Regions from separate parts of the Homo sapiens genome. Here all the other regions are reported to be linked to region 2. Evidence: microRNA targets listed by miRTarBase, many of them from high-throughput screens and not tested one by one. Region 2 holds a microRNA gene; each other region holds the end of a gene's coding sequence.
What was found. The annotated mature microRNA hsa-miR-4486 reads GCUGGGCGAGGCUGGCA and lies in region 2 at 1,185-1,201, opposite strand. An mRNA with a match to its seed (bases 2 to 7 or 8) in the 3' UTR can be bound and repressed. Matches are read on the target gene's strand: a 7mer-m8 pairs with bases 2 to 8, a 7mer-A1 pairs with bases 2 to 7 and ends in A, and an 8mer does both.

Region 1 (3,258 bases), not on the chromosome of region 2:
GATAGAGATTTTTTTTTTGGAGTTAAAAAAATTCCTCTTGTGATAGTCTCATGCTTAAAAAAAAAGTTCTGTTTGTGCTTTTCTTTATGATTCTGCACATGGTAGTCAATAAAAGTGAATGTTGACAGAAACTTCTTTGACCCAGAAAAATAGCCATTTCTTCATGAAAATTTTATTGTTTCCTAATAGAAAACAAAAACTGCTGTGGCGTTTGAGTATATGTTTTTCTCCTTTTAGGGAATGGCAATGCTCTGTGAAACCATTGAAGAATGTTGGGATCACGACGCAGAAGCCAGGTTATCAGCTGGATGTGTAGGTGAAAGAATTACCCAGATGCAGAGACTAACAAATATTATTACCACAGAGGACATTGTAACAGTGGTCACAATGGTGACAAATGTTGACTTTCCTCCCAAAGAATCTAGTCTATGATGGTTGCGCCATCTGTGCACACTAAGAAATGGGACTCTGAACTGGAGCTGCTAAGCTAAAGAAACTGCTTACAGTTTATTTTCTGTGTAAAATGAGTAGGATGTCTCTTGGAAATGTTAAGAAAGAAGACCCTTTGTTGAAAAATGTTGCTCTGGGAGACTTACTGCATTGCCGACAGCACAGATGTGAAGGACATGAGACTAAGAGAAACCTTGCAAACTCTATAAAGAAACTTTTGAAAAAGTGTACATGAAGAATGTAGCCCTCTCCAAATCAAGGATCTTTTGGACCTGGCTAATGGAGTGTTTGAAAACTGACATCAGATTTCTTAATGTCTGTCAGAAGACACTAATTCCTTAAATGAACTACTGCTATTTTTTTTAAATCAAAAACTTTTCATTTCAGATTTTAAAAAGGGTAACTTGTTTTTATTGCATTTGCTGTTGTTTCTATAAATGACTATTGTAATGCCAATATGACACAGCTTGTGAATGTTTAGTGTGCTGCTGTTCTGTGTACATAAAGTCATCAAAGTGGGGTACAGTAAAGAGGCTTCCAAGCATTACTTTAACCTCCCTCAACAAGGTATACCTCAGTTCCACGGTTGCTAAATTATAAAATTGAAAACACTAACAAAATTTGAATAATAAATCGATCCATGTTTTGTAACAAATTCACTGTGTTATTTAAGGAAAAAAAGGTAAGCTATGCTTAGTGCCAACAATAAGTGGCCATTCGTAAAGCAGTGTTTTAGCATTTCTTGTGCTGGCTTGTAATGTAGGGAAAAAAAGTGCTGTTTTTTGAAAAGATGGTGTCATTTCCCCCTTCTTCCCATGTTTTAAAGCCCCATCTTATATCCAGTTCCCAAAATTTGCATACTTACCTAAGTATTTTTTTTAGGTGTGCTGTGTTTGGGGAATATTTGAAAATTTAAAGCATGATTTAAAATTTTTTAAAGTGAGCTGTGACACTGGAAAGCTCTTCATTTTATCTTTTAAAATAGAGTTTTTTCTATTTATATATGTAAAATTGTAGTGTATTTCTTTTCACCAAACAGTGTGTGGGACATTCTTTATCACTGTTTTAGGATCACCTCAGGAAGTGTCGTTACCCAGAATTCCCCACTGTCTGCTATGAGACTTGTAACTTTATCACTATACTTCTGCTTGGTGCCATCTTGTCAGAGTAATATTTGATGTCTGTGATATGTAAAGAATTATCCTAGGATAAAGATATTAAACTTTAAGCAGATTTCAGATGTTACTGCTTTAAAACAAATCAGGGATAACAAATTAAACGTATAACTTAAAATATGCAATGACATTTAGAGGTAACCAATGTTGATATAGGTAGCATAGCCTAGCCTCCTCCCCAAAATTGCTTTTACAACTAACACTGATACTAATTTAGGATAGTTCATGCCTTATCCTTGCTAAGAAAATGGAATTGATGGTAGGCAGGTGCTAAAGTGCTTTTCAAAACAATATTACGTTAGAATACAATTGGATTCTTCCTCAAATTTATACAGGCCAAAAAGTAAAACATTAATTTTCTGAATTTCCAGATTACCAATCAATTAATCAACAAATAGCCAGTATTATGCTGTGTATTTCTGTCAGGTCATTTTAAAATCCATGTTAATTTTATAAAAGAATTTTTTACATGTCACTGTCAGGAGCTCACTGTGAATGTGTTGTCTTCAAATGGTTATTTAACCACACAGTACACTACATTTTACATATATGTACGTAATCTCTGGGAATAGTAAATTAATTATGTTATTTATAAACAATACATAGGTCAACAGACTTTAAGCAGGGAGGAAAAGAAGAGTAATAGCGTCTGTGTGCTGCAGACCATTCAGAACTGTCACGTGTGTCCCCATGGTCTCATTCATTGTATTCCTAGCAATTCCCTTTTCAATGTTGAGTTCACCTCTTTATTTCACAAAGTACTTGGTCTCTCAATTTCTTGATCTGGTTTTGCTTCCATTTAAAAACTAATCAAGAAGGGAAAATATTGAGAATGTGCATACAAGAAAATCATTAATTTCCTGAAGATGAATTTCTACCTGTTGTGAACATTTAACTTTCTTTTTAAAAGTTAAACAAAAATAAACAAGGGATATTATGATGAATGTTTGGCTTATGTGAGTACTAGAGATAAAATTTTTAAACCCAGTTATTCACAATATAAAATGTTTTCAAGTTAGAAAAAATTTTTAGAAATCCTGGGTATTGTATTTAACTGTAGCTAACCAATTTTAAAACTTGTATTCTTTTGAGAACTATTATTAATAGAAAAACTTTTTATAAGCAGTAAAATAAGAATGTTCCAGTGACTACCTGTCCTTATACCTAGTCTTGTTAAAACTTTCTTTTGCAGGGTATTTAGTGTTTGGTTTACAGTCAGTGCAGAGTGGGCAAGTTAACAGAAAGTTTGAGCTAGAGATACTGGAAAAAAAAAAGATCAAAGAATGAGAAAAATGGTGATCCATTTTGGGGCAAACTGAGACCCCCCAAATAACTCTTTCCTCATGTGTATGGTGCTCCTCATGACTCGTCTTGTATTTTGCCTTTCTGATACCCATCAGAACTGCTGCTGCTCTAACTTATACTCTTTACCTTGCCCAGATCTCCGCGTAAGGAATGCTTTATGATCAACTTGCCATAGGACTGATGGATTAACCAGTGTTCGGCTTTATTTGAAGTCTATGCCCTGCACAGCTCTTGTATGTATTTTAGATGCTAGAAGTTTTTTTAGCATGTGATGTGTGATTCTTGTTTGAATTCTAGGTACCTTGTGAATTCCAGAAAAAGAGACTGT
Region 2 (3,258 bases):
ACCAAAATAGTAACAATGGTTATTTCTGGGTGGTGGAATTATGGGTGATTTGTATTTCTCCCCAAATTCTCTACAATTAGTATGCATTATTTTTGTAATAGAAAAACAAACAAATGAAACATGAGTAAGAAGCGAGTGGTTTCAAAATACCCTGCAGATGGGAAATCTGTTCGCTTGCCTTGGATTCAGCTGAAAGCCTCTCTATGACTTCAAGAACCATCAAAAGTTTGAAGTAGCTTGAAAACAGGTTTTTGCATCAGAATGCGGCAAGGCTGCCCAGTCTCTGGCCAAGTGGGTCTGATCCCTTACCTGTTTATTTTGTGGCTGAGGATCAGAAAGGAGTATGCTAGCTTGGAATGGAGAGTGTAGACAGAGGAGGACCCATTCCACAAATGGCTGTGTGCAAAGGGCACTTAGGCCTGGATTTGAGCACTTTTTCTGCCATACACTAGATGTGAGATCTTGGGCCAGTTATTTCACTCCTTTGAGCCTCAGATTCCTCACTCTGTATGACTTAAAAAAGCCATCCTGAACCACCCAGGCTCAACTGGGCATCTATTAGAGTCCACACCGTAATCTGCTCAGCCCTCTGTGTTACAATGGGCTACAACTTAAAACTAGGGAACACACCTTGTCCACAGCTGTGATTCCCTTACCTCTCATAGTGCCTGGTACAGTGACCTTCAATACACATTTGCTGAATGAATGAGATGCCAAAGCTCATGCTAGGTCCTGTAGCTGCAGAGATGAACGACATGGATCCCTGGCCATCGGGAGCTCCCACTTTAGTTGGAACTCAGTCTCCCCAACACAATATAGATGATGACCAATGCCTTAAAGGGCTTATGTGCAAAGAGAAACTAGAAGAATGGGGAAGAAAAGGTGAATTTCCCCAGGGGTGTCTGAGGAGGTACTTGCATAGGGGGGTAGAATCTGAGCACAGTCTGGAAAAATGAGTAGAGCTTCTCCTGCGGGTACAGAGACAAGGCAGGCAAAGGTGTGGAGTGGAGCAGGAATGTGCACAGCAAGGAAGAGGCAAGAGCAAGGCTAGGGCCAGGCGTGGAGCACCGTGGATGGGTCTGACTGGCATTCTGGCTGCTGTAGGAGCCCAGGCTTAGAAGGAGAGCTGATGGGCTCCTTTCTCATTGCAATGGCAAGAGCAAGCATCTACCGCCTGTGCTAGATGCCAGCCTCGCCCAGCATGCTTCCACCTGCCCATCAGGAGGGCAAGGCAATAGGACCAGTTTGGGGTTAATCACTGCTAAATCTAGTCTGCTGCTAAGAACCCCTCTAATTTAAACCAGCATCTGTGAGAAGGGCCAGCTTTGGCAGGGGCCTTGAGGAATGTGGACATGATTAACCTCTGCCAGTTGCAGCAAATTAACTGCAAAAAGAACATCCTGGCAGCACCCCGGATCTTAAGTGCAGCCAACCCTTGAAGATGCAGGCTGATTGCTTTGCCTGGGCTGGAAGTGCAAAGCTGTGTCTTTACTGGGCACTTCCCATTAGGAAGTATAGGGGCACCAGCTAAACTCCATCCCTCCTCAGGGCCTTCACCTGTGCTATTTCCTCGGCAGGAAACCCCTTCGCCCAATTGAGTATGGTTGGCCTGTTCTGATCTTTCAAGTCCTGCTTCAAATGTTGTTTCCTTTGTGATGTCTTCCCTGACTCCCCATCTAAGGTGGCTTTGCTATTCTCCCCACACTCATCACTTTCTGTTCCACCATTCTATTTTCTACTTTTCAAAGAGTTTATTTTCTTGCATGGTTGTTCATTTCCTTTCTCTCTACCTAATTCTAACTGGACCTATGCTCCACGGTAGCAGGAACCTTGTCTTGCTCACAGCTGTATTCACTATGTTTGGCACTTAATAGGTGATCAACAAAAATAAACGGGATGGAAGGAAGGAAGTAAAGAAGGAAAAAGAGGGGGTTTCTAATACAATGGCTCCAAAATGTCCACCAAAGCACTTAGCCCCACTGCCCTGGGAAGATGGCTCATTACCCATGAGCCCACGGAAAACCTATAGGCCAGGGCCAGGAGTGTTGGAGCCCCAGGGACAACACAGGCCAGGAATCTGATGCTAAAGGAAGAATAAGGGACTAGGAAGGGAATTAACATTTATTGAGCACCTACTGCTCAATAGTGCCAGGCCTGTGGTTACTGAATGAAACCTCTCATTTTACAGATGAGGGGGGCTGTAGCTAATAATAAATCATAATAAACATAAAATATCTAACATTTATTTTTGCACCTGGGCTAATCACATTGCATATATTTTCCCAACAAGTTTGGGAGGTAAGCATGATTACTGCTCCCATTTTGTAAGCAGTGGGAACCAGGAATGCTCAGTAACTTGCTCAGTTTTATACAACTAGCTAGTGGCAAAGCCAGGATCAGAACTCAAGTCTTTCCAACTCTTGTCCAACATCCTCTTTTGACAGAAAATGCCCTTCACACTATCATGATGGCTGGTTTGGCCCTGCCTTGCAGCCAGCTCTCCAGGGAAGTTGCTGGAAGGAGCCCTGCCCCAGGCCATGGTTCTAGGCAGACTTCAGACAATCCCCAGTCATCCACCAGCTGCTCAGCAGGCCAGTAAATTAGCCTGCCACCCCCAAGTGCTGAAAGCACTTGGGCCGCCTGACACAGCACCCTTGCCAAGAGCCTCCCACAGACACAGGCAGGTGAGGAGGGATGGGCCTTCTAGCCCTGCAAAGCAGCCAGCTCAGAAACCACCCAGGGAGGCCTCCCTGACAGGCTGGGTACAGGGGAGGGCTCAGGCAGCACTTTCTGTCCAGGAGAAGAAAGCACAGTCCTCAGGCTCTACCACCTACCTATAAGCTGGTGACCAGATAAGTTTCTTAATCTCTCTAAGACCTAGCTTTCCCATCCATAAGGCTTCTGTGAAGATGAAGTGAAATGGCAGATGTCAGGCACTGCCCGCGGCTGGCACAGGGTAGCAGCTCAGTGAAGCTCAGCTGTACCAGGTAAATTCTAAAATCAGAACCCGCCAGGAAATCCTCCTTCCCACCTATATACTCACGCATGCCACAGTCATTGAGTCCATACTATGTGCTTGGCTGTGTGCTGAGCGCTGGAGAAAACATCATTAACAAAATGGTCAAAATCCCTGACTTCAAAGACCTTCCAGTTCGGAGTGGGTAACCAACAAAACAAATATGATAGTATGTCAGACAAGGTGCCAAGAAGAAAAAGGCAAAGCTGAGAAGATAGGTATGAAGTGTAGGGGCAGGGTAG
Region 3 (3,226 bases), not on the chromosome of region 2:
AAGTTCACACTCCCAAATGAACTCATGCCTGTGTTATTTTCCTTTGAAGGACCAGAAGGCCCCCTCAGTACCATCTGAGGACACCGCAGTAGTGCCTATTAAATAACATCCAGACAAGGCATGGCCCTTCAACTATCTTATGAAATGAGAAACCACCACACCGGCCACGAAGCCGTTCACATACACATGTGCAGGGTGGATGAGGAAAGGACAGATGAGAAACTGGGACCATACCAGGTGATAACTGAGAACCAAACTCCCCAAAGCTCCCAGCACTGGACGACTCCAGAAAGGTGAGTATTTATATAGCTCCTACAAAAATAAACTTTCGATGCCTGTTCTTTAGAGTTATAAAGGAAAGGCCTTTGCATTTGGTTTGTCTCTGGAGGCTTTTCTGGTATCAAATGCAGTAAAGGTTTTAAATGACTCTGAGGCAAGGTGGAAGAACTGGCTGCCTGCCCCTGCCTTGGTCCTGGGTTTTCAGGATGGGATGGGGCACAGGCAGAAGAGGGCAGCTGCCCTGGGCACAGCATAGAAGAGCAGAGGGTGGGGTGGGCTGGGCCACAGAGGGGATCCCCAGAGTCCTGTTACAGGAGGCCATGAACACATTGTGACTCTGAGCATTGGGGTCTGACTCCTGAGTGTCTCTGGAAGCACGTGTGCCCCTCCTCTCAGTGTCCGGCCAAGGCAGGCATGAGGTGTTGGATCAGCTCCACTCAAAGAGGGCGAGCCAAGAGTGTGCCAGCTTTTCCCCAACAGGCTAGGGCTCCAGCAGCTCCCCTCCTCTTCAGAACTGGTGCCCACACACTGTCAGTGTCCTACACATACTCTCACTTGCTTTTCCTTTACAGCGTCTTTTCTCTAACTTTACTGGTCTGAAAAAAAAAAATTCTAATACGTGCAGCACTTATAAGTAACTTATAAATATGGGAAGCTGTCAGAAGTTTATGTATTTTAAAACCATGACATGGGCTAGAGTCTGGTGAAACAAGATCGGGCAAGGTCGAAAGGTGACATCTTCGGAGGACCAAAGCACCAACTTTCCCCCGTCAGTGGAACTTTGAAACTATAGTGTGGATGGAGTCCAAGACATGATAGCACACCAGAGAGAGAGAGAGAGAGAGAGGCGGAGGGTGAGTGCCTTTAACTGTTACCAGTTTTGAAAATCATGTACTTCCATTAACTTTTACCTTCCCCACTATGAATTCTTTCAAACACTCCTGCTCCCTGGCATTAGATTCTGTCCCACGAGCCATTCATCTTCCATGCACTGCCTTGGCTAAAGGTGCAGATTAAGGGTAAATTCAAGCCCTTCCCTTCCTATGGGAGGGCTCTGAAAAGGGGAAAGAAAAGAGGGGAAAAATATGAAATTCTGGAAGTGTGACATCCAGAAAATGAAAACATCTTATGTCTTATGTGATAATAAGTAAAACTATCTTGTTAAAGGTTCACATTGATTTTAGGATGCATTTAGATTTTCTGGATATTAAGACAGAAAAAAAGGCGTTTTGGGTTGGAGGACAGGGGACAGGTTTGTAAGCAGATCCTTTCCAATCCGGGCTTGTGACCATTCTGAAGGCACAGAAACCAGCGTGGGACCTAAAGATGAGTCACTGAGGAAGCTCTTTATTCCAGCAGAATCCCCACCCTGGACGCTAAGGAGACGAGCATTCCACTGACTGTCAACTGGGAGCCGTGGGTTTGTGTGGATGACTCTGTGTGAGCTGAAACAGCCTCTGCAGGGTAAGGAGCCCACAGACTGTATTACAGCCCCTGCTCACCAAGCCCCGACGGCCTTCCGCAACTCTGCCCTTTGGACTACGGAGGAACAAAATAATCGTTCAGTTTTCTGGGCCACAAAATACAAGATGGGTCTGGGTTGTACAAGGAGCTTACACACGGAGGCAAGAAAGCGTGCAAACAGGGGCGGGAATTTTTCACCCCCTGGGTGAGCCAGTGCTCAAGACATGGAAGGAGGACCTGAGTCACCCTCCCGGAGTCCACACGGGTTTGTGTTTCTGGCTTTTATGAACCATGTCCAACTCCAGCTTCCGTCTTCTCCTGAGAGGAAGAAGAATATTCTATGACGTCAATGATTTTTTTCCCTATCACAATATCATAAAGAGGTCCAGGAGCAGGCCTAAGAGAAGGACCAACAAAAGCCAAAGTGTCTGAGAACAACATAATACTGACTTTTCTTTGTTGGTAACAGTCCATGAAACGTGCACCCCTCTCTCCTGAGACACGGTGAGGCATGAGGGGAGGCGGCAGAGGAGTTGTGGGTAGGACATTGTACCGTGTGACATCACGATCATGCAGCCAGTGCCGACGGGACAGAGATGTGAGAACAAGCACGCAGGGCTCCAGGCTCACCCGGGAGGGAGGTGGGCGGTTTCCAGCTAAGTGCCCAGCCTCTCAGGAACACTGTCTGTCCAGTTCAGCCAGGGCCATCCCCTGGGGCTCGCCATCTGGGCTCGCACCTTTAGCCCTCATCTTCCCTCAGCTCGGTGGGTAAAAACTTATACTGCTGCTGGCGGATTTGGGCCAGTTTTTTCCTTGCTTCTTCCAGTTCTCGCTCTTTCTTTAGCATTTCTTCCTGGGCGGCGATGATCTAGAAAGAAAGCAACAAGCTGGATGGACCTAACACTTTGTAGAAAACCCTCCGACCCACCCCACTGCTCATGTGAGCTCCACGGCTCCCGCGACCGTGGGACACTGCAGCACATCCGGAACAGCTTTCTTAGCTCTGGCGACCAGCCTCTGTCACTGTTTGGGTTTTGAGACTAATGACCCAGCTGAGCCATGAAAACACGCTGGTTCTGGCCTGTGATTGAACAGCAAACATCTCTTGCAGCCTTACTATGTACCAGGCTCTGGTGCAAACACTCCACGTAGACAGTCCCTTCACTGAAGGGGCTGCCCTGTGAAGCATGCCCTGTTGAAAGTCTTGTTTTTCCAAGAAGAAATCTGAAGCTGAGCAATGTAGGTCCACTGTCTGGAGTCACCCAGCCAGTGGAGGAAGACCCGGTCCAGGTATGGGCAAGGCTAAAGCGGAGCCCTGGACCACCAGATGGCCCTCAAATGCTTATTTCACGCTTTCAAGGTGTGATCTGAGGAAGACTTGCTGATAGGTATTGTGTGGAAAGGGAAAGTTGTGTTCAAAAAAGCAAAGTCAGTTCCTTTCCTGGCTTTCCAGAGCCTTGACTAGGCTACCGACTATCATTAT

Region 1: the mRNA of ACVR2A is a reported target of hsa-miR-4486. Seed matches in the 3' UTR shown: 7mer-A1 at 3,060-3,066.
Region 3: miRTarBase lists TLN2 as a target of hsa-miR-4486. Seed matches in the 3' UTR shown: 7mer-A1 at 2,468-2,474 and 7mer-A1 at 1,849-1,855.

The regions. Positions count from the first base shown.
Region 1 is chr2:147,926,843-147,930,100 of GRCh38, forward strand. It overlaps ACVR2A (activin A receptor type 2A), which reads left to right. Exons shown (of 11, transcript NM_001616.5): 11 at 238-3,258. The coding sequence ends at 432. Among named protein-coding and RNA genes, the nearest start is that of ACVR2A, 83 kb to the left of the region's middle.
Region 2 is chr11:19,573,257-19,576,514 of GRCh38, reverse strand. It overlaps MIR4486 (microRNA 4486), which reads right to left and starts at 1,205; the gene lies at 1,143-1,205. It also overlaps a transcript of NAV2 not described here.
Region 3 is chr15:62,839,867-62,843,092 of GRCh38, reverse strand. TLN2 (talin 2) reads right to left here. Exons shown (of 59, transcript NM_015059.3): 59 at 1-2,611. The coding sequence ends at 2,483. It overlaps LOC105370854 (a long non-coding RNA gene), which reads left to right. Exons shown (of 7, transcript XR_007064671.1): 4 at 1-293. Among named protein-coding and RNA genes, the nearest start is that of MIR190A, 18 kb to the right of the region's middle.